Linked DNA regions of Homo sapiens: region 2 is linked to region 1. Evidence: fine-mapped QTL for protein levels in blood plasma. Region 1 holds a variant in brackets. A gene starts in the other region. All regions are shown on their forward strands.

Region 1 (15,750 bases):
GGACAGGGAAGCCAAGGCCGGTCCAGCCCCGGGAACAGGGAGATGGCATGTGGAGCCTGACAAAGAGCGTGGGCTTTATTGTTCATTCATGATTAGAAAAGTGGGTGCTGGGACCCCCGTGGAGGGGGTTGGGCTCTGCCCGGTCACTGCTGGTGCAGGGTATATACAAGGTCTACGGCCCTCACAGGCCTGACTGGCTCCCTCTTGATGGCCACCAAGCCCAGGCACTTAAGACCAGAGCCAGTGGCCATCCGTAGGGCCAAAGGCAGTTCTGGCTGTGCAGGGTCCCTGGGTTAGGAAGTGGACAGAGGCTGGGGTCACCAGGGCAACCCGGACAGGGCCCACGGGAGGCAGGGACGCTGGTGCTTTGGGAGAGGGAGAGACATCTCCTTGTCCTTCTGGAATGTCCTGAGACAGAGGCTGGCCCTGGTCACTCATCCAGCCCATCCACGGACCTGCTGTGTGTCCTTGAGTGGGTCGAGACCCTTCTCTGGGCACAGGTCTCTGCAGCTGTCCAGTTCTGACCCTCTGGGCTATTGTGGCCAGCCCCCATGTGCCAGGAGGGAGCTGCCTCCTGGGAACAGCTGCTGAGAGACAAGAGTGGCCTCCTGCGTGGTGCTTGGCCGCAGTCAGAGCAAGGGCTGGTCCGGGGACATGGTGCAGATGAGGCCAGCCTGGGCTCTGGCAGTCTGGGTAGTGCCATGTGCAGGGAGGTGGACACCTCACAGGTATGGCGACTCCTGGGGTCGGGCAGCTGAGTTGCAGGGCAGGCAACATCCAGGGTCCTGGAAAGGAGACAGAGGAGAGGCTCTGAGCCTGGAAGGAGGGAGAGGAGAGGCTCTGAGCCTGGAAGGAGGGAGAGGAGAGGGTCTGAGCCTGGAAGGAGGGAGAGGAGAGGGTCTGAGCCTGGAAGGAGGGAGAGGAGAGGGTCTGAGCCTGGAAGGAGGAAGAGGAGAGGGTCTGAGCCTGGGAAGGGGGGAGAGGAGAGGCTCTGAGCCTGGAAGGAGGGAGAGGAGAGGCTCTGAGCCTGGAAGGAGGGAGAGGAGAGGCTCTGAGCCAGGCTGTGACAAGCCCCGAGTGTCAGGGCCATTTGCACACCCGGACTCAGGAAGGAGAAGAGCCTGATTCTGACATGAGAGGTGTCAAAGTACTCCATGCCTCAGTTTCCCCTCTGAAAATGGAATGAATATAGCATGGCTGGGTTACTGCCAGGACTTAGAGGCCTGGCCCAGCATGGGGGGCTCGGGTTGGGCAGCTGTGACCATAGCCACCCACGAAGCCTGAGACCTCTCTGACTGCTCCACGCAGGACACACAGCAGCTTTGGCCTCCGAGCCTCTGAGGACAGCTTTAAGGTCCACTGCTGGGTCCCCACGTGGCCCACAGACGCAGCACCCTCTTCCCGGCAGGCAGATAACTCATGCTTGGGAGAGTTAGGGACTGCATTCAGCACACACAGCAGGTGATTAATAAATGGCCTGGCCACATGCCCAAGCCAGGGAGCAGCTGACATCTAGGTGTTCTGGAAGAGGACAACTTAACTACAAACTGGAGGCAGCATCTGGACAGTGACTCGGACCCCACATGGGGCCGCCCAGATCCAGGTCCTTTCAGGAGGGTGACTTCAGGCTCCACGGCCGGGACATTGGGGGCTGGCGTGATCCCACTGGGGGAATGGCCTTGGGTGTGGTAGGGGAGCTTGAGAGGCCATGGGCCACTACGAGCAGCGGTCACTCGTTGGCCCCCGTGTGGGGAGGGGTGAGGCCAGGTGGATGCAGGGTGCTCCCAACCCAGCTGCTGGCCCCAGCGCCCCACCTCATCCTCACTATGCCCTCTTGGGGAATTTTTTTTTTTTCCCGAGATGGAGTCTCATACTGTTGCCCAGGCTGGAGTGCAATGGCGTGATCTCAGTTCACTGCAATCTCCACCTTCCAGGTTCAAGCGATTCTCCTGCCTCACCCTCCTGAGTAGCTGGGATTACAGGCATGCGCCATCACGCCTGGCTAATTTTGTATTTTTAGCAGAGACACGGTATCTCCATGTTGGTCAGGCTGGTCTCAAGCTCCCGACCTCAGGTGATCCGCTTGCCTCAGCCACCCAAAGTGCTGGGATTACAGGTGTGAGCCACCGTGCCTGGCCTGGGGAAATTTTTATATATCCTTGACACACAGGCGCTCTGCCCCAAGAGCACTGCTCCTGTCTACTCTGCCATGGGCCACCACTGGTGGAGAGATGGCCACCTGCCAGGAGTGCCCACCCCTCCCTTAGCAACTCACCTCCACCTCTGCTACAAACCGGAGGGGTGACCCCTAGGCCTAAGGTCGCGGGGACTGTGGTGTGTGGCCCTGGCCTGGCTGCATGGACTGTAGTGTGTGCACCATGTGGCCCTGGCCATGGCTGCATCCCAGGCCTTCCTGTGGATCCTGCTCCCAGGCTGTGTCACTGGGCAGACGCTCACCCTCTCTGAGCAAGGACACAGGGAGAGGCTGTATGTGGTGTGAGAAGTCTTCCTACACTGGGTGCCTCGTCCTGTAGAGACAGCCTCAGTCTGCATCCTGCACACAGCCAGGGTCCAGCCTAAGGCAGGCAGCTAACAGATTCTGCGAGGCCCGGCAAGGGGCAGACTTGAAGAGTCACAAGGGCTCCACGTGACAAGATCCTGAATCCCACCGTCCTGGTCAGAGTGGCACAGTGAGGTGGGCATGTCAGGCAGGCGGTCATACCAAGGTCCCTTTTTCTCAGACGAGGGCTGGGAGGAAGCTTCACCTGCTAAGTGGAGCTGATAAGGGGTGCAGAGCCCCTGACTTATCAAGAGAAGCCGGAAATCTTTGGGTTTTGGGTGTTTTTTGAGACAGAGTCTCACTCTGTCGCTCAGGCTGGAGTGCAGTAGTACGATCTTAGCTCACTGCAACCTCTGCCTCCTGGGTTCAAGCGATTCTCCTGCCTCAGCCTCCTGAGTAGCTGGGACTACAGGGATGTGCCACCATGCCTGGCCACTTTTTGTATTTTTAGTAGAGACGGGGTTTCACCCTGTTGGCGAGGCTGGTCTCGAACTCCTGACCTCAAGTGATCTGCCCGCCTCAGCCTCCCAAAGTGCTGGGATTACCGGCATGAGCCACCGCGCCTGACCCAGAAATCTTTTTTTTTTTATCGGACAGACATTCTGAATGTATAGAAATCTTACGTTTAAGTGAGTTCTCCAGGATGTTCAAATGGTGGCTCCTACACACATTCCATCTAAACACTGTGACCACAGGACCCCAGGTGGCCAGCACCAGTGGCAGGGCTGGCCTCAAGGCAGTGGCCAGGCATTGGCCTTGTAGGTGTGGACGAGGATGCCCATGGCCTAGGAAGGTGTCCAAGGCTGGCCGGCCAGGGACTCACCACACTGCAAGAGCCTCCAACAGCGAGCAACCCCAGGACTGCAGGCCTCGCGCCCCATCTCCCAGCTCACCTGGGTGTCCTACTGCTGGGGTGCCATGTCCATCAAGGGCTTCTGGACCCCGAAGGCCGTGATGAAGATGTTGACTACCACGATGATGAACACCAGGCCCGTGGCCAGGTTGTTGAGGAAGTCCAGCTTGGCGTGCTTGGCCGGGTTGTTAAGGTCGTACTTGACTGTGGGCGAGAGAGGAGTGGATGGTGCCAAGGGCAGCCCAGACGCAGCGCCCCAGCCTGGGACAGTGGAAGGGGACCCACCCCAGCGGTCAAGCTGTCCTGGGACATTACAGGGCTCTCAGTCGCATTTAGGATGAGTTTTGTCGCCCAGAGAAAAATACATCTGTTTTGCTGAAACATGGACAACAGCGCCCCTGGCTTGGGCAACCCCACGGTCTATGACCCCACCTTCTGTAGCCCCCATATTTTCCTTATACGAATTGAAGCTATGGACGTCAACCAAAGGCCAGGTTTGGGCAAATGCACTGAGCCCTTTGCGTGCCTTAATCTAGTGATTCCTGCCACAAGCTGCAGTTCTATTATGATGCCTGTTTTATAAGTGAGGCCCGGGAGGTTCAGCCACTTGCCCAAGGTTACGCAGCCATGAAGGGGACCCTGGGCCCAGAAGGTAGGACTGGCATGACTGAGGCCATCTCATGGCATGGGTCAACAAGAACCCGGTGAAACACCTGCCCTAATGCCCACAGGCCAGGCCCTGACCCCACTCTGTGCTCTTTCAAAGTGCAGGGTGGGGCCAGGCACAGTGGTTCATACCTGTAATCCCAGCACTTTGGGAGGCCGAGACAGGAGGATCACGTGAGCCCAGGAGTTTGAGACCAGCCTGGGCAGCATAGCAAGACCCCGTGTCTACCAAAAATAAAAAAATTAGCTGGCATGATGGCATATAGCTGTGGTCCAGCCTACCTGGGAGGCTGAGGCAGAAGGCTCGCTTGAGCCTGGGAGGTTGAGACTGCAGTGAGCTGTGATCAAGACACAGCAAGACCCGGTTTCAAAAACAAAACAAAACAAAACAAAACAAGGCTGAGCGTGGTGACTCATGCCTGTAATCCCAGTATTTTGGGAGACTGAGGCTGTTGGATCACTTGAGCTCAAAAATTCGACTGGGCAACATGGCGTAACCTCATCTCTACAAAAAATACAAAAATTAGCCGGGCATGGTGATGAGCGCCTGTAATCCCAGTTACTTTGGGGGCTGAGGTGGGAGGATCGCTTGAGCCCAGGAGATGCAGCTTGCAGTGAGCCGAGACTGCGCCACTGCATTCCAGCCTGGGTGACAGAGGGGGACCTTGTTTCAAAAAACAAAACAAAACAAAACAAAAACCAAAGTGCAGGGTGGGGGGAGGGGGGGTGCCACTTCCTGGACTGCATGTCTGGGTGATGAGGGCCAGGAACTCGGCAGCTCCTTGAGAGCCAAGTGTGCAAGGTGGTGGGCACCTGTCCCAGGCGATGCGAGCAGATGCCAGCAAGGTGAGCAGGTGGCCTGGCTGCCCCCACCTGGGGACCTACCAAGGAAGATGAGCAGCACCCCCACGCCGATCTGCAGCACAAGGGAGATGGAGATGAGGACCACCAGGGGCACATAGAAGGCGAAGCTGGGGCCCTGTTCCACGACGGCCTTCAGCTGGGACGCGTTGGCCATCAGCAGCGCGATGTCCAGCATGCTCTCGGCTGCGCTCTTCTTGCTGGCGTAATGGTTCACGTTGATGGGCCCGTGCCTCCAGCCCCAGCGGGCCGGCTGCAGGGAGGGGAATGGTCAGCAAGGCGGGTGGGGGAGGGGGGCAAGGGCTGTGCCTGAGTCGGGCTCTGGGGGTCACCGGGCCCTGCAGGTGAGGGCTTCCCTTGCCCCCACCCCTGGTAAGTGCTCAGACAGAAGTGCTTATTACCCTAAGGAGAGGCTGCGAGCATGTGCTCAGCCTTTATAAAACCTCCCCTAGGAATACGGTCCTGGAGAGAAAGGAAACGACATAGCAACCTTAGCACACGCACTCTGATTTTCCACTGGAAAGCATTGCCCGATCCTCCCACTCCTGCCATAGGCGGGGCTGCTCCTCCCTGCCTGCCCCTACCGGTCTGTGCCCCCGGCCTCCTCTCCCCCTCCCCTCAGAGTCTGAGCTCCTGATGCCAGGAAAGGAAGTGACGTGTGGGCGGACAGATCTGTGCACACCGGCCCAGGCAAGAAGCAAGTCCTCCTGGGCCGGACCTAAGGGCAGAGATCGCCCCTGCCACCTCCCAACCTCCCAGCCTTGGGGCCCAACAGGCCACTCGCCTCCAGGCCTCAGCACAGGCCTTGCAGAACTATTCGGCCATTAGCAGCAAGACTTCACTGAGGTGGGCCACCCAGAGCCCGGCCCCGACACAGCAGAGGCTCAACAGATGCCTCAGCATACGACATACAGTGGAGCTTAGCTTCCACATTACTTCCCAGAGTAATAAAATGGGAATGCGAGTTCTGATGGAATCCTCTTTGCCTTAGGGGCCTATCTGGTCAGGGCCCCCTGCAGTTCTCTCGAAGCCCCCAATGCCTTTCCCTGGTGCCAGACACTCTCAAGCTCCAAGGCCCCACACAGAGGCCACTGCTTCCAGGAAGCCTCCCAGGACTTCCCCTGGCAGGACATGGCCCTCTCTCCTGCCACAGGAAGGTCCTCTCTAGGGCTGGCCCTTCATTCCAAGCTAAGTACCAAACTTCCTCTTTCTCTGGAGCAAGAGTCTGCCCCTCTCAAGCTGCCCTGGTGGGGCCCTCTTCAGTCACTCAGGACAAACCTGCCAGCCCCTTGGCCCGGCCCTTTGTCCACAGGCGCCCCTGAGTTGCCAGGCCCTAGACCACAGCCTCCCAGGACTGGTCACCTGCTTGGAGGCAGCTGTGAGAACCCACTGCTGGCAGCCAACCTCCTGGGGCCCTCTCTGGGAGATCCTGTTTCCAGACTCATGAAAGATGCAGGCCGGGAGGCCGGGGTGCCGCAGGGCCACAGGGAGGGGCGGACATGGTATCCATCCAGGCCTCGACTTTCTGCAGGCTGGAAAAATACACGAGGCAGCCAATACAGAACCAGCAGAGGGCAGGGGCCTTGCTTTCATGCTGCGTGTTTTTCAGTTTCATCTAAAATTATGTGCCCAGGAGGAAGAGAGTGGGCGTCAGGGGACACTGGTGGGCTCTGCTGCTTACACCTGGGCCTGGGAATTCCAACAACCTGCCTTCAGCATCAGCTGCTCTCTAAGTAGCAAGTTCACGTGGACACATGTGCGCACAGGGACAGCCGCCTTTACCTGGGCCACCCAGCAGCGCTGTCCCTGGGGCCCTGGTGTGCTCTCGGGTCACTCCATGCATACCCCGAAGCCTCTATGGGGTGTCTACTTTGCCTCTCCCACCCTGGGCCTGACGCTGCACTCCCTGGGATTCCCCCAGGCCCCAGCACAGCCAGGGCACTCACCAAGTGAGAGGCTGTGTTCCTCTCCCATTCTACAGACCAGCAGATTGCAGCTTGGAGGAGGTTTGCCCAGAGCCACCTCCCAGGACTGTGTGTCCCTGTCCCACCACTGTCCACTTAGGGGCTTCCTCCCAGGCTGCCCAGGGTCTGGGTGAGGACAGCCCGGACACAAGGGCCTGTGCCTGGCACTGAGGTCGTCTCCAGTTCTGCTCTTGCGAAGCTGCCCAGTGGGCCACACCCCATCACACGTGTGCTCCGCAAGGTGCAGTGTCCCAGGGGCTGCTGGCCACAGTGGGCATGTGCTCCTAAGTTTCACAAACCTCAAGTGCCAAAGTGCCTTCCTTCAAGGCCACCCTTATGCTCATTCGGGTCTCCATCCCAGGACTTGGTGCTGGGAGAAGGCCAAGTGCAGACCCCGTGAGGATTTCCACCTTCTGGGGGCATCTACACATATATGTGCGTGTTCCTAGTCACAAAAGCACAGAAACACACATCCCCCAGAAAGACACACATAGACGTGAGACACACATGTGCACACAATACGCACACACAAATACACATGCACATACATACATATGCACACGTACATAAACAGACACACAAGCCCAGGCTAACTGTGTTGGCCTCTGGGCAGGAGGAAGAATTCCCTTTTTTTCTGAGCTCTGCAGAACCATTTAAATATTTCACAGCCATGCAGTCACGAGGAACACTCAGATCCATTAAAAAGCACCATCCGCGCAGAGCCTCCAGCTCCCCAAGCCTCAGCTCTCAGCACCCCCAGCCACGAGGAGCCTGTGCCCCTGCTGTCCTCATGCCCACTTAAGGTGGGTAAACTGAAGCCCAGCAAAGGCGGTTCCTTACCCAAAGCCACATAGCAAGTGAGGGCTTGGCTAGGATTTGAACCCAGGCCCCGGGGCTCAGAAGCTCTGGTAGCTGATGCCATTGTCCCTTAGGGGCTGAACTCTCAATGGCTCCCTGCTTCAGGCTCCAGCTGTGTCCGGACAACTAGCCCCACTTTGTGCCTCAGTCTTCCATGTGTACCACGAGGCTGTGGAGCAGATGCCCCAGGATGGCCTCTGAGCCCCGAGTGGCCAGCAAATGCCCTGACCATGCACCCCTGCTGGTGAAGGGCACTTCCAGCCCATCCGGCCATCTGCTTCCTGTCCAACCTGCAGCTAGGGAAGCTTCTGCATGCAGGTCAAGCCCTGGCTCACCACAGCCCAGCCCGTGGCCCTGACGCAAGCTCCCCCTCCGTTGGCCTCAGTCTCCCCCTCCGTATATCTAGGGTTGCACCTGGGAAACTCCTGCTTACCAAGGGAGAGGCTGTGTTCCTCTCCCATTCTACAGACCAGCAGATTGCAGCTCAGAGGAGGTTTTCCCAGAGCCATCTCCCAGGACTGTGTGTCCCAAAGCATAGGGCTGCCCCAGGATACAGCATAGCTGGCAACCACCCCAGGCAGCAGGCCACATTGGGAGCATCATGTGGAGGGGAGGGCAGCAGGGACAGTCTGCTTCCCTGTCCCTAACCTTGGTACTCTGGGCCTTGGAGCCCTGAGCTGACCACCACACAGGAGGGTCCCAGGGAGGACGATCCCACTCTCCCCCAGTCCTGGGCACTTGCCTCTATCTTGGGATGGGCCTGAGGGTGGCCGGGGGACCCAGCTACCACAGGTGAGGGAGCCCTGTGGTCCTGACCAGCCAGCAGGAGCTGCCAGGAGCTAAGCCCTGCTGAGACCAGTGCCCATGGCTTGGGCAGGGCAGGGAATAAACACCCTGGTTAATAGATTCCCAGAACCTCAGCAGCACTCGGGGCCTGGGGCCAGGCCAGATATATTTCCTCTGAAAGCTAGGAGGGAGGCTTGGTGAGGAGGTCAGCTCTGTGTAGGGGCGTGGCTGGCTCCTCATGCAACCTTCTGTGGACGGTCGGCCTCCCCACTGCAGGCTGCACATGTTGGGGCTGGGCCACACGGTCGGTCCTAGGGCCACTTCAGTGAGCATCCTCAGCTCAGGCAGGAGGGGCTGGCACAGAAGTGGGATATGAACCAGGCTTGCTGCATCCACCGGCCTGGCTCTGGCCATAGCATAATGGGTGTTCTGGCTCACCCAGGGCTTGGATGGGAGGAGACAGGGTCGGGGCTGTGGGCCCACAAATGTGGTGATGCATATCAGTCGCCCTTTCCAGGGGCCTGTGAGGAGTAGGGCTGGAAGCTGCCACAGCACCTCCTTTACCCCCCGAGTCCTGCCTCAACACTGACCACTCTATGCCTCAGTTTCCTCATTTGTAAAATGGGTAGACAAGGATGTGGAGGGGACTGAATGGGGTGGTCTCAGATGCCCCGTGGCTGGTGGAGCGCATGGCAGTGGGTGGCAGGGCTGTTTTCCTTGATGCCTGGCTCTCACTGTTTTGAAAGACTCTGCCTCCCCGACCAACTCCACTGACTCAAAAGCAGCTGAACAGGCTCACAAAACAGTCACACAGCAAAGAAAGGACAGCCTGGGGCACAGGTTCTCCTGTGCTGAGCAGGACCCAGGGGGACAACAGGGACGAGGTGCCTGCCCTGGGTGCCTGGGGGGTCCCAGTCTACACCTTGGCTGCTCGCAGCCTGTCCTGCTCACTGGCCCTAACCCTTGGACTCAGCAGGCATTGGCAGATGGTGGGGCGACCTGAAAATCAGGCACCCCTCTTCTACCCCACCATATGCTAGGACCTGCCTGGGGCTTCCGGCATCCCTTGTCTGACCCACCAGTGTGGGCATGAGCTGCTGTGCCCATTCCCCAGATGCCACACAGACAGGCAGGGCCTGGCACTGGAGCCCTGCACCGTCTCCTACCGGCCAGCCCAGGAAGCAGGCCCTGAGAGGGTCTCCCAGCTCCATGTCTGTGTTCCTGGCAGGAAACCCCAGCAAGACAGCAGGAAGTGCTGGAAGGCGGGGTTCCCACCACAGCTGGGCCAGGCAGACCCACTTCCCGCGGACTCAGCACTGGCCACGAGTGGCCCTGAGACCATGTTAGGGTTGCCTTTTAGAACTTGGCCCAGACCCTGCCGGCCTCAGGATCTGCCAGGAAAGCGGAAATGAGGAAACGAGCAAACCTCCTCCTGGGCAGCTGAGGCCATGCACGGCCCAGACGGCAGGTATACAGGGCACAGCTACCTACCTCCAAGGACCATGCCTCTCGGCCCAGATGTGGCCCCAGGAACCTTCAACCTGCGGGCTGTGAGGGGCAGGAAGGTGTGGCTGGCACCAGATGGCCGTGTCCTAACCCCATCCCCACCACCTCCCTGCCTTGAGACACCCTGGGGATAACAGATTCAGGCCATTTTCACATTAACATTGTTGTTTACTATTCCTTCTGCTGACAGCCACAAGTGAGCTGACTCAATCCCTGGACACTGATGGGGGCCCTCACATGAAGGGCCACAGGGGCGCAGGGCACACGGGGTAGGGGAGACCTGAGAGCTTCCCACGGCCGTGGCCCAACAGAGCCCACCCAGGTTGGAGTTCCACGTGTGGCTCCTCCCTGAGCCTTGTCCACCCTGGGAGGTGAGCAGTTGTGCCCCATTTTACAGAAAAGGAAACTGAGACTCTCCATTTTACAGAAAAGGAAACTGAGGGAGCTGGGCAAAGCGCTGCCCTCTCCAAACCACTGCCAGGGGTCACCAGTGGGAGAGGGTCTCCGTGGCAGGCAGAAGGATGAGGGCGCTGAGTGCTGGCCTGGCTCTAAGCACTTCATATACATCAGCTACTGAGTCCTCACCACTCTCTATGGCAGGCACCGCGACCACACCCATTTCACAGATGAGAAACTGAGGCACAGAGTGCTGACATGATGTGCCCAAGAAACGGAGAAGCAAGGTCTTGAGGTTGGGAAGAGGAACAGGTGTGTTGGGTGGTCCTGGGCCCCCAGGCTGGGTGAGCAGAGCGGCCCTCGAAGTTTTCTACCCCTCAAGGGGAAATGTGCTCATCCTCACACTGGCTCATAGCCTTTCCACAGCTCCCTGGACACCAGACCGTGATCAGGCCTGCAAGGCCCCTCCCATCGGCCTGGCTTCCCATCCCCCCACCTCCTACCTGGCCCTCATGTGCTCTGTGGTCCAGCCTCTGAGCCTTTGCTCCCACTGTTCCCTCTGCCTAGATGCCCTTCCACACATCTCAGAGAGCCAGATCTGCTCACCCACCTTCCCTGCCCTCCAGGGCTCAGAGCCAATGTCCCCACCTCCACAGAAAGCCTTCCCTGACCACCATGCCCCGCCCCCCACGATGGGCTCCCAGCCCCCAGGGAACCCCCTGCTTTGCCCTGGCCTCTCCTGCCCTGTCTGGGCTGGGCTGCTCTCCAACCGCGGCTTGGTGGGGC[G/A]GGGCTGTGTCTCTCTCCCTCTGGTGCCCAGAGCCAAGACAGTGATCCGGGAACAAATCCAACCCAATCTCCTCTGGGCTTGAGATGCACCCATCTCAGGAGGCACAGCCTATCCTGCCGCCCGCAGAAGTGAGCAGAGACTGCTCTGAGTGGAGGGCATTGCCCGGGCAAGGTCAGGGTTGGGGGAGGAGCAGTATCCCTTCCTTTCCAAGGCGCTTCCAAGCCACTGACCTGTTTATTACCTGACTTGCTTTCCCCACTTCCCTGAAGGCAGGAGAGACCCTTTGTTCTCTCTTTATAAGACCATGTCTAAAAGGCCCAGCGAGGTGTGGCAACTTCCCAAGGACACACAGCCGGAGGAGCCCCCTGCCTATTGCTCCAAAGTGCTCACACACTGGGGCAGGGCCAGGTCGCTGGGGTCCCGCACACCGGTCAAGTCCTGCAGTGCGACAGCTCCTCTCTAACCTAGGAACAAGTGTCCATGCAGCCCCAGGGCCATCCTATCCCGTGGCTCATGGGGCCCCGCCTCCCCGAACATGTCCTGTCCCCACAGCACCGGCCTAGGACTGTTCACCAGCGAGTGGGCAGAGTGTCTTTGCCCCAGTCTGGTCCACGCCATGGAGAGGCCTGGAAAAACCCAACAGGCTGCTGTTCCCTGCCCCCATCCCTGAGGGGGTTAGAAAAGGAAAGAATGTTCAAAGTAAACAAGTCACCAGAGGGCCATGCCAGGACCTTGCAACAAACACAAGGTGCTCAGTAAGTGCTGAGTCCTGGGATGAAGAATTCTGAAGCGGGACCACTACCAGGGCCTGCCCCCTGCCCACAGCCCTCCCAGGCCGGGCAGGGCAAGTTCTGGAGGGCCGGTGGCGGCATACACTGAAGGCTGTGTGACGTTTCTATTTCTCAAGGCAGGTGAGTGGAATAGGGACCACAGCGGGCCCCAAGTTCCCCCATCAAGGCACGCATCAGATTGTGTGGTCAGCGTGGGGTGACGTAACTGTCTGCATGCAGCTGGTCTGGAGCCCGGAGGCTGTGACTCCCCTCCGCCCGCCTCCGGGCAAAGTGCGCGGAGGAGCCGGCACGGCGAGGCTGAAGTTAGAGAGGCCCGCGCGAGAGTGGGGGGGAGGTCGGGAAAGCCGGGCGCCGGCAGTCCTTAGCCCGAGGAGCTGCGCCGAGGCCCCCTCCGCCGTGCAGCCAAGCGCGGGCGCTGCTTAGTGGGGCTGGGGACGCCAGCCCGCCCTGCGCCCCCACGCCCCCTCGTCCCGCCCACTTGCCGGGGGTGGCTGGAGCTCCCGGGGGCATCGTTCTGACCCTGATGGGGCGGGAAGGACTTGGCCTAGAGCGGGACGTCCCCCAACACTCTGCAGTGCGGACGCGGCGCACACAGGTGCCCGGGGAGCCGCGGCGCCCCGAAAGGACAGGGCCTGGCAAGATCATGCAGCGGTGGGGGGAAGGTCTTACCGAGGCGTCCGGGGAGCCGGGTGTGCCCGGAGGCAGGCCGCCGTTGAGCTCGTACTCCTCGGTTCCCGAGTCCATGGTGCGGCCGCCCAGGCCGCCAGGATCCGGGCCTGAGCGCGCCCGAGCCTCAGCCGCAGGCTCCAGCTGCGCGCCCGCCCCCGGCCCGCCCCCGGCCCGCCCGGCGGCGAGCTGCTGCCCCAGACTCCGCCTCCACCCGGGGCGGGCCCGGGGCCTGGAGGCTGTACGCTGAGAGCGCGCAGTTTGGGGCGACCCCAACCCCTCGGGCCTGAGACGGTCCCGCGGGGCCCCACAAGGGAGGGGGCGCGACGCCGATGGCCCCAGAGGACCCTGCGCTGCGTCTTGCTCTGAACCTCCGTCGCGGACACTTTTAATCCACAAAATGAGGCCAAGAACGACCTTTCCCTGGCCACCAGGCAAACTGCATGAAAGCGAGCGGGCGTTGCCGCTGGCGCCCACGCTGGGTTTTTCCCAGGCGGGGTTCGCCCTGGGAACCGCAGATCGCTCCAGCACAGCGCCTGCTGCGCCCCTAGTAACAGCGTCAGAGAGTCCGGGGTTCCCCTGATTGCGGGCCACGCTGACACAGGGCTTCCCACTCCCTGACCTTAGGTTTTCCTGCCTGGGAAATGGGGGTTATGAGGGCACAGACTGCTGGAGGGGCTGGGGGAGGCACAAAGGGGATGAACGTGCGCTGACTCATGGGCCCATCTGTGCCACCTGTGGCAGGGGGTGGGCTGGGGGCAGCACAGTGCCCAGAGCCCTGGCCAGATGCTAGGCGGGCCCCCACCTGTTGTATGATTGAAGTGGTTGTTTGGTCTCTGTTTCTCCATATGTTCATTCCTCAGCACTTTGCCCATCTGGGGGCCTGGGGGTCGAGAGCATGTGGCGGCCACCCTGGGAGGCCAGGGGAGTTCATCCTGACCACAGCATAGTCAGCTTGCGGCAGTATGGCCACTCTATTTCCAGAAGGGCAGTGGAAGGAAGGCCAGCTCAGACCCCAGGCTCTGTCCAGTCAGGCTGCCACCGGGACAGGAGGTAGGAGTGAGTGGGCATGGGCAGGGCAGCAGGATTGCGCTTGCCCTGATCCTCCAAACGGGGTCATCCCATGAAGGAGGAGCTGTCGTGGGCCCACTTCACAGCAGAGAAACTGAGGCTCAGGCTGTCACTGCCCCAGCTCTGCCTCAGAGGGGATCTGCAGGACAGGGTCTGGCACGGTGGCCCACGACGGGGATGGTTGCTGTTGTCCTCGCATAATCAGGGCACTGTTGGCACACCTGAGTGTTCACCAGCAGCTGGAAATCCAGCACCATTCACACAAAAAACTCTCTCACAGTATGGGACAAATCCCTATTCTGGGGGATAGTGCCTGCCCACGAGGGCTCAATTCCTGGAGGGGCAGGAGGTGTGGGACCACAGAGAAAATACGTCACACCCAGAAAGGGCCCTGGGAGCTGCAGGGGAGCCCTGAGACCTTGGAAGGCCAAGGGCGTGTAGAGAGGCCCCGAAGTAGGAGGGCTTGGCAGGTGGAGACCCCGTCCTGAGAGTATTCTTTCCTTTGTGCCATGTGGGAGCTCCTGCAGTGTGGTTCATCATTCCCATCCTTTTTTTTTTTTTTTTTTGAGATGGAGTCTTGCTCTGTCGCCCATGCTAGAGTGTAGTGGTGCGATCTTGGCTCACTGCAAGCTCCACCTCCCGGGTTCACACCGTTCTCCTGCCTCAGCCTCCTGAGTAGCTGGGACTACAGGTGTGCGCCACCACGCCCGGCTAATTTTTGTATTTTTGGTAGAGACAGAATTTCACCATGTTGGCCAGATCACCTCCTGACCTCAGGTGATCTGCCCGCCTCAGCCTCCTAAAGTGCTAGGATTACAGGCATGAGCCACTGCGCCTGGCCCCATTCCCACCTTCTAAGAGGAAGCCGGGAGGGTCGCAGCACCAGTGACAGTTGGGACATCAGCCTCGGGGTTTGTAAACCTGCTCTGTGCTGGCCGTCTGAGACCCTCTCCCAGCCTCAGTTTCCTCAGCTCCTGGGGCTGCTGGCAGGACGTGTGGGTGTCAGGGCTCAGGCAGGCTGCAGCGCTGGAGTTCCCTCGTCTGCTCCGTCATCCTCATTTGAGTATGTAGTGTCTGTTTTCCCCACTGTGCTCAATGCTGTTTACCCAACTGTTCTCTGCTGGATCCAACCCAGGACAAGTCTTAAAGGCACAGTGTACCCCGTGTCACCTCCATCTACCTTTTTTTTTTCTTTTTTTTGAGATGGAGTCTCGTTCTATTGCTCAGGCTGGAGTGCAGTGGCGCGATTTTGGCTCACTGCAAGCTCCGCCTCCCAGGTTCAAGCGATTCTCCTGCCTCAGGCTCTCGAGTAGCTGGGACTACAGGCGCCCGCCACCACGCCTGGCTAATTTTTTGTATTTTTAGTAGAGACGGGGTTTCACCATGTTAGCCAGGATGGTCTCGATCTCCTGACCTTGTGATCTGCCTACCTCAGCCTCCCAAAGTGAAAGGATTACAGGCGTGAGCCACTGCACCGGGCCCAACCACCTACTTTCAAGTTCTCCTGGAGACCATGAGTGCATGAGCTGTCCAAGACCAGTTTCTAGACGCTGACCCTGAGCTGAGGGACATGTCCCCAGGAGAGACACAGAGGAGGGGTGTGGCTGGGAGGAACGGGCTGGCAGATGCCCCAGCAGAGCAGCCCTATGTGTGGGTGGGTGTGCACACACAAACACTGTATATGTACGAGGGCCCCAGGCCTCTGTGGAGGAGCCCACAGGGTATCTCAGGATGCCTCTCTGGTGCCCAGGGAGGCTTGGTGCATCCCTCTCCCCCATCAAAGACTCTAGTGGATTCTTCTGGGGCTGGCGTTGTGTTGAGTTCAGATCTGCCCCTTCTGGCTTGGGATGTGCTTCCTCATATGTAAAGTGGGTATAAGGCAAGATGGCATGTGAGGACCATGGAGGTGTCACCCCAGCGTGCTCCTCACAGTGCCACCTCAAGCAGGTGGCTCCATCCCGCTGACCAAGAATGAGACCCCAGTG
Region 2 (16,283 bases), not on the chromosome of region 1:
TGATTCATGAATTCTGTGTATAAAACGAATGAAGAGAATGGGAATGGGAGGAGCGGATAGGAGTGAAGGGAAGGGAGGAAACTAATGTTCATGGGCCTTTACTACTAGGTTTCCAACCCAGCACTCTGCTTAGTGCTTTATGTGGATTATTTTGCTGAAACCTCATAACTATCCTATGACTAAGCATTGTAATTTCCTTTTTTTTTTTTTTTGAGATGGAGTTTCGCTCTTGTTGCCGAGGCTGGAGTGCAATGGCACCATCTCAGCTCACCACAACCTCTGCCTCCTGGGTTCAGGCAATTCTCCTGCCTCAGCCTCCCGAGTAGCTGGGATTACAGGCACGTGCCACCACGCCCGGCTAATTTTGTATTTTTAGTAGAGACGGGGTTTCTCTATGGTAGTCAGGCTGGTCTCAAACTCCCCACCTCAGGTGATCTGCCCGCCTCGGCCTCCCAAAGTGCTGGGATTACAGGCATGAGACACCGCGCCCGGCCGTAATTTCCATTTTATAGGTGAGGAAACTCAGGCTCCAAGACGTGAAGTCACTTGTTTGGGTCATTCAGCCAGCAACCAGCAGAGCTGGATCTGCACCCAGGTCTAGCTGGCCCCTGAGGAGACTATTCTAACCACTAGACTCATATAGTCTGCACTCAGAGCTTCCCTGGGAATTTCTGCCTGAGGATGTAGCACCTTTCACCTGCCAGTCTCAGGGACAGGGGTCCTGCCAGCCCTGCCGGCTTGATCTCAAAGGAAGGCCTATTGAAGTAACAATCAGAAGGAGCCTGTGGGCTGTCCATGAAAGGGTGGTGGAAGGGTGTGGGAACAGGAGGTGCTTCTATTCCTAGCTGTTTGTAAACAGCATCCCGACAACCCGGCTTGTTCTTTCTGCAGTGGGCCCCAGGGACAGCTGAAGCCAAGTTCTCCCAAAGCAGCCTTGGCTTTTCTGAGCTTGTGCTGGGGTGGAAGCCTGCAGACAAGGAGAATCCACCTCAAAATCTTCTCCTAATCTCCTTTCACTCTGTCTTTTTCCAACCCAGCAACTCAGTTTGGGCCCCTGAGCCTGTGACATAAAATAAATTAGGCAGAGGCTCAAAGAAATCAGGCTGCTGGGGCCAGGCAGCGAGTAATTACATAAGCCCTGCCTCCCTGCTTTCCTTCCTCCCCTTCCCCTCTCTCTTCATCATTCCTTCACACTCACTGATGGTTTTTTTTTTTTTTAATTTCGTGAGAGATAAAATAATGTTGATTTGGCAGATATACAGGTACAAACTCTGAAGAGTTTAGAGTGAGGAAAGAAGGTCTCTCGTGATGTGCCAAACACTTTCAATGCCTCATCCTATTTAATCTTCACTATAACCCTTCAAGGATGATTTTATCATCCCCACTTGACAGGTGAAGTAATTGGGCCTCAAGAAGCTATGTTAATGAGATAGCATCGATAAAGCCTTTGGCTCCAGAAGGCACTCAATCAAGTTAATGTTCTTTCTTCCTTGGGTAACTTATTCCAAGTCACTGGATCAGTAAGGGGCAGGAGCAGAATTCAAACCTGGACCTATCTGATTCCAGACACCCCTGGGCTTTCTGTCTCACCGCACTGCCCAGACACTAACAAGCCATTGGGAGAACTGATGAACCGAATGGAGACCACTGCTCTTTTGCTGGTTAAACAAAAGTGGTCCAATAAATAAGGAAGGGCCTGATCTGGAAAGGCCTGCATTCTATGGCTCAGGATATTCCTGTTTATCCAACTTGGCAGGCATGTAAATATTAGCGTCGCCACTCCTGTCCCCCATGCATGGCGCTGTGTGTTGTTCCTCTGCTCCTGCTGTGTGTGTGTGTGTGTGTGTGTGTGTATACACATGTGTGTAGACTGCCTATCTCTTGGTGTGCTTCATTCAGGCTCTGCACACTCTGGGCCCAGCTGTAGATATGCTGACACGGTCTGACAAAGATACTCTAAAGTCTCCTGGGGGAGAGAAAGAGAGACTGAAGGAGGATAGACAGATAAGACCGGGGCTTTGTCCTCACCTTCTTGTCCCAGCCTGGGGACCATGAAGCTCCCAGAATCCCTGAAGCCTCCAGCCTTCTCTGATGCTGGGAGCAACCTCCCCTTGGTTAGTGGGACTCAGACCCCACCTCTTAACCATCTATATCCCGCTCTCACTGGTGAGCCATCTTATTTTACAAGTGCTCCTTGGTCCTGTCCATCTGTCCTGCCTCCCTCTTGCATTTTCCATCCAGCCAAGCTCTTTTTTTTTTTTTTTTTTTTTTGAGATGGAGTCTTGCTCTGTTGCCAGGCTGGAGTACAGCGGCACGATCTCGGCTCACTGCAACCTCCATCTCCTGGGTTCAAGGGATTCTCCTGCCTCAGCCTCCCGAGCAGCTGGGACTACAGGCATGCGCCACCACACCCAGTTAATTTTTGTATTTTTAGTAGAGATGGGGTTTTACCATGTTGGCCAGGCTGGTCTCGATCTCTTGATCTCGTGATCCACCCGCCTCGGCCTCCCCAAGCACTGGGATTACAGGCATGAACCACGGCACCCGGCCTAACCAAGCTCTTATACCTACTGTCCCAGTAAGGAGAAGGCAGGCACCCAGAGGGCAGCACTGAGGGTGGGAGCAGGCACTAATGCCTCACTTGCTCAAAGTCTTTTTTTTTTTTTTTTGAGATGGAGTCTTGCTCTGTCAGCCAGGCTGGAGAGCAGTGGCTCGATCTCAGCTCACTGCAACCTCCGCCTCCCGGGTCAAGTGATTCTCCTGCCTCAGCCTCCCAAGTAGCTGGACTACAGGCATGCACCACCACGCCCAGCATTTTTTTTTTTTTTTTTGAGACGGAATTCTGCTCTTGTTGCCCAGGCTGGAGTGCAATGGCACGATCTCGGCGCACCGTAACCTCCGCCTCCCGGGTTCAAGCAATCCTCCTGCCTCAGCCTCCCTAGTAGCTGGGATTACAGACATGTGCCGCTATGCCTGGCTAATTTTGTATTTTAATAGAGAAGGGGTTTCTCCATGTTGGTCAGGCTGGTCTTGAACTCCCAGCCTCAGGTGATCCACCCGCCTTGGCCTCCCAAAGTGCTGGGATTACAGGTGTGAGCCACCGTGCCTGGCCATTTTTTTTTTTGTATTATTAGTAGAGATGGGGTTTCCCCATGTTGGCCAGGCTGGTAAAATTCTTTTTTTTTAATTTAATTTTTAATTTTTTAGAGATGGGGTCTTGCTATGTTGCCCAGGCTAGTCTCGAGCTCCTGAACTCAAGTGATCCTCCTGTCTCAGCCTCCCAAAGTGCTGAGATTACAGGTATTAGCCATCACACCTGCCCTCAAAATTCTTTAAATATTATATACATACAGAAGAAAACGTATAATAACAATATTTAAAACAAACACCTGTGGATTGTACCACCTAGTTTAAGAAACAAGCAGTTGCTTTTTCAAACTCTGGATGGAGGCAGTTTCAAATTTCAGGGCGAGATTTTAACAGTCTAACCCTCTCCGGTGCCTGCTTTTGCCTCCCTGGGTCAACAGGCCCCCGTCACCTCTTCTGCCCTCTTCACCCTAGCCTCCAGGGCTATTTTGGGTGTGTACCAGTTGGGGTTAATCTCCTTAAGCATTGAGCCGTGCTGCTCAGTGCACTCCTGATAGGTCCCAACCCTCTGCAAAGGGCATTCTGAGGGTTAGGCCGCCGGCCTCGGGCCTTCCCGGCCCCGTAGAGATACCATGGACACTGAGCTGTGAACTAGAACCGATGGGGGAGGGGGCTGCTGAGGCTGTGCAGGCAGTGGGAGTGGAAGGTCAGGAGGGCTCAGGCCCAGCAGCCGCTATTAGTAGGTTGCTTCGGGTTTGCTTCTCGAGTTTACCTCTAGGGAGAGCTTTCCTCCACCCCCACCAGCTCAGCTGCCCTGACCCTGGCTGGGTACAGGCGCTAATCCCCAGCCCCTGCTAACACCAGGGAGAAGGGAGGGGGAGGCAGGCTGGAGATTTTCTTTCCCACTTGGGAAGGAAAGAGGACACACAAGTTGACCGGTTGGGATCCGGTTCCTGAAACCTGAGACAAGGACAAGAGTTTCACTGAACCGTTGGCTACAGCTTGCCCAGGGGCTTTGTCTTCTACCTGGGCTGAAGGAGAGTTCCCGGATGATTAGGGCGGAGCTACACTGGCTGACAGGTCTGGCCCTTTAAAGGGAGGGAGAGAAGCTGGGGTCAATTCTTCCAAGTCCCACCTCTACCCTCCCCAATCCCCTGCTAACATTCACTCAACAAACAGAGGCTGAAGGCCTGCTGTGTGCTGGGCCCTGCATTTGCATTTTGCCCTCCAAGTCCCACAAGCTGGTGAGTGAGACAGCCCAAGAAAACAGATGATTATACAAAAGTCATGTCCCAAGGGCTTTGGTACAGACTGGTATTGGAGCGCTCAGACAAGGTGCCTGACCTTGAGGGAGTCCTGGAAGACTACCTGGAGGAAGTGGTACCTGAGACAGGCAGAACAAATAGGAGTTGACCTGGAAGAGGCAAGGGTGGAATATTCATGAAAAAGATGGTAAACAATCAGGAGGATCTCTGGAATATCCCATCCCTTGGAGGGAGACCCTGGAGGGAGAAGCAGGCCAAGGGCCCTCTGGCAGCCTAGACTCACTTTGCACAATAGCCAGAGTATGCATCTTGGGGCTGTCCTTCTGGGGAAAAGACAGACCTTAAGACTGTCTTAAGGCCAACCTCCCAATGTTGGTTTCTTTCTTTCTTTTTTTTTTTTAAATTTTATTATGAAAATTTTCGAACATACATACAAAAGTAGAAAAAATAATATAATGAACACCCATGTAGACCCATCACCCAGCTTCAACAATTGTCAACTGGTGGCCAATCTTGTTTCATCTATATATACCCCCACCCAGATTATTTTAAGGCTAATTCCCAAAGCCAATAAATTTTTCCCATAAATATTTATGTATTTATGTCTAAAAGAAAAGAATCCTTTAAAAAGTATATCTGCAATGCCATTATCACACCTAAAAGAAATTAATAGAAATTCCTTAACAGCATCCACTATCTAGTCAGGATTTACTTTCCCTAATCCACACTTAGTTTTTCTAGTTATGTTCCTACTCATGGGGGCAGGGAGATGAACATTTGACAGAAGACTATTATATCAGCCAATATAAGAATTTGTGGTCTCTGCTCTGTAGCACTCTCTGATGGTTCTATCCATGTGTGTTTTGCATGGAATCTAATTGGATTACAAATTCTTCAGGGCAGGGACTGACATTACTGTCTTTTTTGCACCCTAGTATGGCAGAGAGGAAGAAGCACTGATCTCAACTAATTAGCTGTGTGACTTTGGGAAGGTTATTCAACCTCTCTAAGATAATAGGAATAAAAATACACATCTCCCAAGAATCGTAAGGCTTAAAGAAAAGGTGAATGTGCTCGGCATGTAGAAGTTTCTTAGTAAATGCTCATCTTGCTTTACTCTCTGTTTTGACCACTTTTCAGTTCCTCACATGGAGTGAAGGCCACCGTCAGTGAGGGCTGCAGCCAGGCCAGCAGCCTGGAGTCCACCTGCCCCCAGCACGGTGCTGTGTCTGTGGTGTTGGTGGTCCCCACTCTGAGCACCCAGGGGTTGCTTGTTTACTCGGGCCACTCATTAAACTGACAGGTGAGGCTTGCACAGCCCTCAGGAAACTGAGGGAAGAGAGGGGCTGGACAGGAGTAGAGATTTGCTTTCGGCCCACTTCACCGGTTTCTGGGTTCCTTGACTCAGATGAAGTAATAATTTCATAGCTGGCCTTGACTGAGTGTTTATGACACGCCAAGCTCTGTGCTAAGTGCTCTACCGCAGCACCGCTTTTAGTGTTCACAACCCTGTGAGATGGGTACTACTATCCATATTTTGTAGGTGATGAAACTGAGGCTTAGATTAGGTAACTTGTGACTTACACAGAGACACCATTACTCAAACCAGGTTTTTCTAATACTTAAATCCAAGTTCTTGGCCACACACTCACTATTTTGTTAATGGTGCCAAAGAAGCCACCTTCTAGGGTTCATTCTCACCCAGATTTACAGAGATGACTTCTGCCCAGGCTCAGCATGCACCCCGAACTCCAGCCAGCCATTATGCCAATGTACGTCCCTGGACAGGGTGAGGAAGAGTGAGGGGATCAGAACAGCCTACATCCACAAGGGAAAACCGGACCTAAAGGCATCTCCTTACATCAAGGATGTACACACAAACACACACACCACTTCTATTTCTTGACTCGGGCTCTGTCCGCAGAACCAAGTGTGGACCTGGCAGGGGTGAGAGAGGTGAGGCAGGGGAGGAGACACTTGTCACGGTATTAACTGGCTGAATAAAAAGTCTATGATAGTGAAATTTCCAGGAACAGGAGAATCCTTCACACTCTTGCTTGTGATTAGACTGCTTTGTTTGACTTCAGCCTCAGGAGTACCTTTCTGAGCACTGGAAGCTACCGGACACAAGGCAGTCATGGGCCCAGAGCCTGCGACTGGGAGTGGGGAAGAGCAGAGTCAACGATTTCCAAGGGTGCCAAAGCCTTTGGCTGCATTTCATTTCTTTCTGTATGATTCCTGATAGCTGTGTTGGGGTACCGGGCCCTCACAGTAAGTGCTACCACTTTTTCTGTAAATGTTTTGGTTTTATTTATCATTATCATAGCTGCATCTGGGGCAACCACCTTGTGCATACAGGACAATAAATTCCTGAGCCTCCTGGCTTCCCTCCTTCCTCCCTCCTTCTCCCTCTTCTTGGCAAAGGCTTAAACATAGGTGGTGGGGCGGGGGGGGGCGGTAGGGACAGAGACAGAGTTCCAGCTCCTCTTTGCTTCACCCCCTTCCCTCCTCCTCCCTTCTTTCCCATTGCTACACTAAAGGAGTCAGGGCTGTGTCCACCAATATGCTCTGTGACTAGCAGTCAACACAATTTCATACCCAGCCAGTCATTCCGCAGGCATTTTGGATGATAATGTTCCCATTCTCAGTTCCTCTGTGAGAATGTGCATGTCATTTGAAGCTCTGTGCCTCAGTTTCCATAGAAGTAAAACAAAAAGCAAGAATTGAGACTGATCTTTTTCTTGCAAGAATTCACAAGTAATGGATAATGTACAAGAGATGTGGCTGAATAAGAGAACTAGAACAAAGACTTGAACAATTTTCCTATGCAACACTCTTTCCCATGGACAAAGGTATCCCACAAAGTCATACTTCATCGGAGGCTAGTTTGTCCAAAGAAAACTCACATACCAATGCAATAGTGACAAAAAAAAAATTCCTCCATGCCAACTCAGGAAAACAGAAAGCAAGTTGTGCTTAAGCCCATTGTAGGTGTGGGCAGATGCTTCCAAAACCGTCACCCCTTTTCCCTCCTCTATGACTATCTTCAACCCCCAGCAAAGCGGCCTCGCCAGCTGCTAAAGGGTTAATTACCAAAAAGAGGGCATGCTCCCTCCAGAGGCTCCTCTGGAGAGTGCAAAAACAAAACAAAACCAAAAACCAACTAACCACAACAAAAAACATCTTCCCTGGGAATAAATTTGAAGCTTATCAGGTCTTTAAGCCACATTTCCCAGCCCATAGACTCCTGGTCCCTGTCTCCCTTTGCTTTGGGAAACTCATTTACCCCCAAGCCTCCTGAAATGATCCATGTGCCGTGAGATGCCCATAGGGTTGGGGACTTGAAAATGAGTTATTCTCCCACAAAAAATGGCTTAGCTTTGTCTTTTTGGGTGGCTGACAGGAGACATAAAGTATCACTCTCTCTTTTTACCCCTCCTCACAATAGGATGGAATGAGTGTGGAGAAAAACAAAGGTATTGTGGGACCAGGATGGAGTCAACTTGACAATGGACTCTTCAAGGACACCTTCCAGCTCCCATTCTACTAGTAGCTCTATTTGATTTTGTGGGATGTTGTGTTCCTCCAACATATCCGACTTCTGCTTATAAAACAGAAATTAGGAGTAAGAGATTCGCACCGCTAGTTCAGTGGATAATCATCAGTTCTGAAGCATTAAAATCCTTTGCCAACAAGAACGTTTCTTCTAAGGAAGGAAGCATCCTAATCATGAAGCCAGGGTCTCCAGCCCTCCCCTGTCTCCCTCCTCCCCTCCAGGGCTGTGCTCACTCACATCCATGGACATCTCCCTCTGCATAAGTTTCTTGGTCTCCTTTTCACAGAAGTTGAGCATGGCCTCCCGGTTGTACACACCCGTGGACTGTTTCTCCGTCTGGTTTCTCTGCCGCAGCCCCACGGGAACACTCCCGTCTGGGTCCACCACGTCCAGCTCCTTCTCCAGCTCCTCCATCTCCTCGGGAGACAGGGTCTCCAGCAGGCTGTCGATGTCGGGGTCTTCACTCACCTGCCGGCGATATTTGGCTACTCTAGACATCTTGGCAAAATGGGCTGTGGCTGCCAGGGGCTATCAGAGTCCTGGTGGGCAGGGAAGGGAGAGGGGTGAGCTGATCTGGATGCAGCGAGTGGGCTGAGGAGCAAACCTCCTGCTGGTCGAGGACTGCAGCTCCTTGGCCCTTCTGTGCTACAGGTGCTGAAGTGTTCACTGGACGCAGCAGCCTCCCTGAAGCCCAGGGCTAGTGGACCCCGGCTGGTCTAATCAGCGGCCAATAAGACCCGACAACTGCCAGGCCCGGAGAGGAGAAGCCAATCCCCAAGCTGGGGGCGGGCCTACCTCGCTGTCAGAGCTGTTTGAAACTTGAGGACATTCCAGGGAATCTTGGAGCGCTGCGTGACCAAATTTAGTACAGAGCAGTTTAGCCTTTTAAAGACAAGGGGCCACGCAATGAGAAAAAGATACAAAAATGCGTAGGCTGGCAGAAGCAGATCACAGCCACGGAGAGCCAGACAAGCAGGGACGAGGCCATGAGGGCCGGTGAACTCGCCAGCCCGGGGCACGTTCAAGAGCGTATTTTACTACTCCATCACCGGGTGGACGTATCACTGTGGTCAATGTGTGGTTCATGGACTTCCTTCTACAGTATTTGGTAATGTGCTGGGGGGCTCCCAGGTGTATACAGCTCCAGGAAAGTCTAGATTCAAGATGAGGAGCTGTTACTCCTAACCCCCTGCCTACCCATTTTCTTTCTACCCAGGTTCTGCCAAGGAGGACCTGAAGGCTGAGCATCAGAGGCTCCAGGATCCTTTGGCCACTTCTTAAGAGAGAGACAGGAGACAGAAAGACAAACTTAGAGATAGAGATAGCTAGGCAGGAGAGGGAGAGAGAGAGAGAGAGAGAGAGAGAGAGAGAGAGAGAGAGAGAATAAATCCTTACTGTGTACCAAAACTGAAAACTGGCAGGCTGTTTGGGAAAGAGAGAAGGATCTGCAGAAGTCGGGAAACTCTTAAAGGGCTGTCACTTTCCATGAAGTTCCAAGGCTCTTGGGAAGAGGGTTCAAACCTCCCCCTGTTGTCATCTGTTTCTTCCTCTGCCGGGCATCTGTAGACAGACCTCCTTTGGGAGCACAGAGGCAGGTCACCACCCACATATAAATCCAGAGCACGATTTAGTATGTCTTCAGGGAAACAGAATTCTGGGCCGTCGGGAGAGATACGATTGCAACAGGTCTGGCATGTTTCATAGAAGGGCTTTCCACTGCTCATCCATCATGCTGCCCTGCACAAGTCACAGAGACATTCAATCCCCTGCCCCCCTTCCTCCTGCCACAAAATCCCTTCTAGAAGCCCTGGTGTAACCCATCAGGGTAGATGCTTCGATCTTTCCTGGCATCTTTCCATCCTAAGCCAGAGAGAGACAGTCACTTGATCAGCATTTGCTGAGTCCAGGGATCGTCTGGGACTAAAACTTGGCCGTGCCATTTAATGTCCACTAGTCCAACTTTAGGTTAAGGCTGAAGAGGGGAATGGTGTCCACTGGGGGGACTGAAGGGCAGAAGGAAGGCAGGCAGACTTGATAGGAAGAGTGGAAGAAGACTTTAGGGAAACCTGGGGGTTGTCATTTTAAGAGTCAGTAGCCAACTTATTGGTCAAACCGTAGGTATATATTTATTGAGTGATTTATCAAGTGCCTATTATATATCAGGCATTGTTCTAAGAGCAAGAGATATCACTAAAGATACAAAATCAGGCCAGGTGCAGTGGCTCATGTCTGTAATCCCAGCACTTTGGGAGGCCAAGGCAAGAGGATTGCTTGAGTCCAGGAGTTCAAGAACAGGCTGGGCAACATAATGAGACCCCCATCTCTCCAAAAAAAAAAAAAAAACAAAATTAGCCTGATGTGGTGGTGAGCATCTGTTGTCCCAGCTACTCAGGGGGTTGAGGTGGGAGGATTGCTTGAGACCAGAAGGTTGAGGCTGCAGTGAGCTGTGATCACGCTACTGTACTCCAGCCTGGGCAACAGAGTAAGACCCCATCTCAAAAAAGAAAGAAAGAAAGAAAGAAAGAAAGAAAGAAAGAGCGAGCAAGCACAGGGGCTATGGGAAAACACAACAAGAGGAGGCTGAATAGAAGTATGATTTAACAGTGAAGAGCTTGGGCCTTTGAGGCCAATAGACCTGTATTTGGTCCTGGTATTGCTACTTACAGGCCATGTGACTTGGGCAAGCTACCTTCTTTTCTGAGACTTGAGTTCATCATCTGTAAAATAAGGACAACAGTTATACCAACCTTATACAATTGTTGTGAATATTAAATTAGGTCCTACACATGACAACATTTCATTGATATACCCAGTACATGGTAAACACCATATTTATTATTAATTATTATAATTATTTATTTATTTATTTATTGGGAAACTCTGTTTCACTCTTATTGCCCAGGCTGGAGTGCAATGGCGCGATCTCGGCTCACTGCAACCTCCGCCTCCCGGGTTCAAGCAATTCTCCTGTCTCACCCTCCCAAGTAGCTGGGATTACAGGCATGAGCCACCATGCCCGGCTAATTTTGTATTTTTAGTAGACATGGGGTTTCTCCATGTTGGTCAGGCTGGTCTTGAACTCCTGACCTCAGGTGATCCACCTGCCTCGGTCTCCCAAAGTGCTGGGATTACAGGCGTGAGCCACAGCGCCTGGCTATAATTATTTATTTACTCTTGTCCTGGGTTCTTTTCTTCCCATCCCACCTTTTCTCTCATCTTTTTATTTCTTTCTCTCAAGAGTAAACACCCTCTAAACACACACACACACACACACACACACACACACACTTTCTCACCTGGTTCTCATTCATTCATTCAAACATTTATTCAGATACTACTATTTATATATAGCATCCTGCCAGGCACTACAACATTGTCATTACAACATTGTTATTCTCTTAAACATGTATAATTCAATGGGGTAAAAAATAATAATAACTACACTGTAAGGCAAAGTGAAGCAAGCTAGAGAGGTACAAGGAGTCTTGCAGAGAGGTCCAACTGTTAAAAAACCCAGTGGAAGACACATTAATTTTGTGGGGAGGAGTCAGGGTGGTCATCTCAGAGGGCATAACAAAGGGTTTCAGCCATGCTGGAGTGGGCTTTTAGTTAGGTATGTTGGGTGGACATGGCACTCCCTATGCCCATCCCCTCCCCCTGTACCCCCTTTGGGTCAGCTGGCCTTCACCCTCAGTGTTGCCCAGAAAAAAGCATCATCTTCTGGGGTCCCTGGCTCTAGGACCTCAGCCAACCTCTAGCCTCCCAGTCAGCTGAAAGCAATTCTCTTTCTAGTTTCCAAGGACTCTTTCTCAGGCTTTTTGCCAAAAATATTCACTGCTCCCTGAGGAGCAGTCAGGGCCTAAAAGCAAATCACTACCTTCAGCCCCAGGGTTAGCCCTGTACCATCTGGTTTCAGTGGTTTTCTTTTTTGGGCCCAGTGGTCTCTGCTCCAGGAAGACACTCAAAAAAATAAATCCATAGCTTTCAAATGTAAAGGGCAGGACTCATGCCTCCTAACCAAAGGTTTCTACACATTAACCCCAGTATCTTCTCTGTGTCAGGTCTCCCAATTCCAAATCGCTGGTTCTTCTGACATGACTCAGTCAGAAGCTTTTTACTCCCTGGAGCCCCAAGAGCTCCCTGACACTGCTCACAGACTCCAAAAGTCTTCCCTTGAAAGGCATCACAGCTGGAGCTGGAGGATTTGGGAACCCAGAGGCCAGGGAGTACAGCCACCTCCAGCCCCTACAATGAGAGGCCACTGCCCGACCCACTCTGTAGGGAGCACTGGTTGTTCCAGCTCAGAATCAACTTCCACCTGAAACAAATCCATCCTGGGTATCAGGACCCTGGCCGTTGTCTATTCCCCAGAGAAAAACAAGCACTGTTGTCGCTAGAGGGATGGGGAGAGAAAAGAAGGAAAAGAGACTCAAAGCTCCAATCAAAATGTGGTGCAGGGCAGGAGGGAAGAATGAGGATCCAGAACCAATTTAATTAATGCTTAGGTGGCTCTCAGTTGGGCTGAATGACCCCAGGAAAGTCACATTTTCAGGAATATAGGGTGGCAGTATAGTATAGCAGATAAGACTACAGGCTCTGGAGTCAAATGACATGGGCTCAAATCTGAGATGTGTGACCTTAAGTAAGTTATTTAACCTCTCTGAGCCTTAGGCAATGGAAAATGAGGATATTAAGAGCATCTACGAGCTGGGTGCAGTGATGTGTGCCTGTAGTCCCAACTACTTGGGGTGCTGAGGCGGGAGGGTTGCTTAAGCCCAGGAGTTTGAGTCCAGCCTAGGGAAAATGTGAGACTCGTCTCTAAAACAAAACAAAACAAAACAAAACAAAACAAAACAACAACAAAAAACCAGACCGGGCATGATGGCTTATGCTTGTAATCCCCACATTTTGGGAGGCCGAGGAGGTGGGATGAATGTTTGAGGCCAGGAGTCAAGATGATCCCAGGCAACAGAGTGAGACCCCATCTCTTAAAAAAAAAACCTTGTCCAGGCACAGTGGCTCACATCTGTAATCCCAACACTTTGGGAGGCCAAGGTGGGCTGATCACTTGAGGCCAGGATTTTGAAACCAGCCTGGCCGACATTGCAAAACCCCACAAAAACTAGCCGGGTGTGGTGGCACACACCTGTAATTCCAGCTACTTGGGAGGCCGAGGCACAAGAATCACCTGAAGCTGGGAGGCAAAGGTTGCAGTGAACCAAGATCATCCCACTGCACTCCAGCTTGTGACACAGTGAGACTGTCTCAAAAAATAATAACGAAAATAAAATAATCTAAAATTTAAAAAAACCCTAATTCATAGTTATGGAATTATTGAGCATATTAAATAAGATAATGCATGCAAAGTACTTAACAGCATCGGACATATTTTAAGCACTCACTGATGCTTGCTATATAGTTAAATTATATAGCTATATGTATGTGTATATACATGCAAAGATCAGGAGATATGCTGACATAGAATGACTATGGCAGGGTCCTGAAAGAGACCACAAAAGAGAGAAGTTTTCACACTGGTTCTTTCCTTTTGGGGGATGCTGACAGTTCCCCTAGAAGGCAGCAGACTTTGCCTCTGGGAGCAAGCCACTGGCCTGGCCCAGCACTCCTGAGATGAGCAGAAATGGGCAGAGGAGAGCTCAAGACAGAGCACAGGCCAGACTAATGTCTTCCTGAGAGGAGAGCAGTGGGAGGAAAAAGGGGGCAGCAAAGAGACAAGAGATTGCCTCCTTCACCTCCACCAATGTTACCTAAGCTAAAACCCCTCTGTCTACCAAATCAGCCCTGGTCACAAACTAAAACCCAAACCCAACAGGAGGCTTACTTATCCACGCCAATCTGAATTTCTCCATGACATGGACCAGGTGGGACTGTGGGTTTGGTGCCATGTACATGACCTGTGACTTAGTGGATGGAGTTCCTTAGGCCACAGCAGCCTCTGGCTCAATGAAGCTTGATCTACTGAGTACCTGGACCACATGGGGCTCTAGCAGCAGTCCTATCTTGAGCCCAGAACAGTAACTTTCAATAGAATATACACTGGTATGTTGAATCAGAAGTTCAAACGCCCTTCACCTTTATGGTGACTTTTCTCTCAAGGACCTCCACTGCTTTCTTCTACTATGCCTTCGTATCATTGACCATTCCATCAGTGAGGGCCACCACAGTCCCTCAGAATTCTTTAAGACTAACTAGGGGGAGATTAGAGTACCAATCCTTCTAAACCTTTCAAAAGGCTTCTTTTGAACCCTTTTCAAAAGATTTCTTCACTTAGCACCCTGGAACCAAATGGAAGTGAATATTTTTGAGAAGACGTGACATCTTTCTCCTGGGCCTTGCCCAGCCAAAAATGTTCTGTTATCTGTTGCAATTAAAAGAGAGCAAAGAGTAAGAAGTCTCTTTCCTTAAAGTTTCTTTGGCCACTTGAGCGGAGCTTCCCAGAGCAGTAAACTCCTTTAGGATAGGGACTGTTGGAATTAAATGAGCTGGGGAACCACAACCTAGAAACTGGACTTCAGCTTTGTAAACTCCGAAACTCATTATCACTGTGATGGTTAATTTGATGTGTCAACTTGAGTAGGCCATAGGGTGCCCAGATTAAATGTTGTTCTGGGTGTGTCCATGAGGATGTTTCCAGATGAGAATAGCATTTGAATTGGTAGACTCGGCAAAGTAGATTGCCCTCCTCAGTGTGGCTGGGCATTGAAAAGGCCGAAGAAAGAATTTGCCCCTCTTTTCCTGCCTCACTATTGAGCTGGGATATCTCATTTCACCTTCTCCTGCCCTCAAACTGGGATTTACATCATCAGCACCCCTGGCTCTCAGGCCTTTGGACTTGGACCAAACTGCATCACTGACTTTCCTCCATCTCCAGCTTGCAGACACAGATTATTGGACTTCTCAACCTCCATAATCATGTGAGCCAACTACTCATAATAAATAAATAAATAGGCTGGGTGTGGTGGCTCATGCCTGTAATCCCAGCACTTTGGGAGGCCCAGGTGGGCAGATCACGAGGTCAGGAGTTTGAGACCAGCCTGGCCAATATGGTGAAACCCCCATCTCTACTAAAAATACAAAAATTAGCCAGGTGTGGTGGCGCACACCTGTAGTCCCAGCTACTCGGGAGGCTGAGGCAGAAGAATCACTTGAACCTGGGAGGCAGAGGTTGCAGTGAGCCGAGATCACGTCACTGCACTCCAGCCTGGGCAACAGAGTGAGACTCCATCTCAAAAATAAATAAATAAATATTAATTTTATGTATATATATATATATATATATAGAGAGAGAGAGAGAGAGAGAGAAACAGAAACAGAAGGATATATATATATTTGCACACAATAAGATATATATATGTGTGTGTATATATATATCCTCTTGGTTCTGTTTCTCTGGAGAACCCTGACTATTCCTGGTGATTTAGTCAAAATAACTGATCTCACAAGAGGCAGATACATAAGCCAGTATTAACTACCAAGTGGAGAAGAATAGTTATAAACACAGGCCAGGGTATTCTCTTCTATATCGAAATCTATTCAGAAGCCAAATAAGAAGAAGAAGATTGCATAATAAATATGGAATAAGAACAAAGGGAGGTAGCTAGAGCTAGAGCTAAGGGATATTTTATCTGGGTCCTGGTGAGAGTGCAAATCTCTAGTTACTAAAATATTTATACCCACCAGGTCTTCGGTGCTGACTAAATGTCAGATTCCTGCCCTCTGAATTCCTCCATGTCCCCTCTCCCACATTCTCTCTTTGGCCTGTACAATTAAATAGAGTTAACTATTCTTAATTACAGTCACATTCTGAACACGTCTTCTCCACCTTACACACCCAAATCAGATAACTAGTATGAACCATTCTCACGTGCAAGACACATTTATTGATAATCTTTAGTTCCATGGAGGGTTCGATTCATCTGCTTACTTTATTTCCAAGCTTTTGGAGAGACCCTCACTCCTCTTTGCAGTCTTCCTTTATTTATTTATTTATTTGAGGTGGAGTCTCGCTCTGTCACCCAGGCACAATCTTAGCTCACTGCAACTTCCACCTCCCACGTTCAAGCCATTCTCCTGCCTCAGCCTCCTGACTAGCTGGGATTACAGGCAACACGCCAGGCTAAATTTTGTATTTTTAGTAGAGACGGGGTTTCACCATGTTGGTCAGGCTGGTCTCGAACTCCTGACCTCGTGATCCGCCCGCCTCGGCCTCCCAAAGTGCTGGGATTACAGGCGTGTGCCACTGCGCCCGGCCTCTTCCATTATTTATGACATTGACTTTTCCGTAAAATAAATATATACATATTTTTAAAGTTAATTACAAACGTACAGAATGGAGAGGAGCACTTTAACAGCCA

Alleles and levels. Positions count from the first base shown, and alleles are read on the strand shown. Strength reflects both the effect of a copy and how common the allele is.
With allele G in place of A in region 1, the plasma level of the protein whose gene starts at base 8,614 in region 2 is higher (weak association).

Evidence for each region. PIP is the posterior inclusion probability: the model's chance that the variant is causal. The UK Biobank Pharma Proteomics Project read protein levels with antibody pairs (Olink). The fine-mapping took linkage between variants from a reference panel, not from the people measured, so its PIPs are less certain.
Region 2: it holds the start of LMOD1, and the variant in region 1 is fine-mapped to the plasma level of the LMOD1 protein (UK Biobank, PIP 0.96).

The regions. Positions count from the first base shown.
Region 1 is chr9:93,121,446-93,137,195 of GRCh38, forward strand. NINJ1 (ninjurin 1) reads right to left here and starts at 12,806. Exons shown (of 4, transcript NM_004148.4): 1 at 12,698-12,806; 2 at 4,965-5,193; 3 at 3,454-3,617; 4 at 51-785. The coding sequence starts at 12,772. The coding sequence ends at 3,463. LOC124902212 (a long non-coding RNA gene) reads left to right here and starts at 11,567. Exons shown (of 3, transcript XR_007061665.1): 1 at 11,567-12,148. RefSeq lists silencers at 3,469-3,633, 12,351-12,600, 12,771-13,000, 13,501-13,550 and enhancers at 5,238-5,889, 9,333-9,931, 9,932-10,529, 12,011-12,060, 13,520-14,116 and 1 more. The variant G/A (reference allele first, on the strand shown) is at 11,237.
Region 2 is chr1:201,937,935-201,954,217 of GRCh38, forward strand. It overlaps LMOD1 (leiomodin 1), which reads right to left and starts at 8,614. Exons shown (of 3, transcript NM_012134.3): 1 at 8,146-8,614. The coding sequence starts at 8,406. RefSeq lists an enhancer at 3,517-4,466.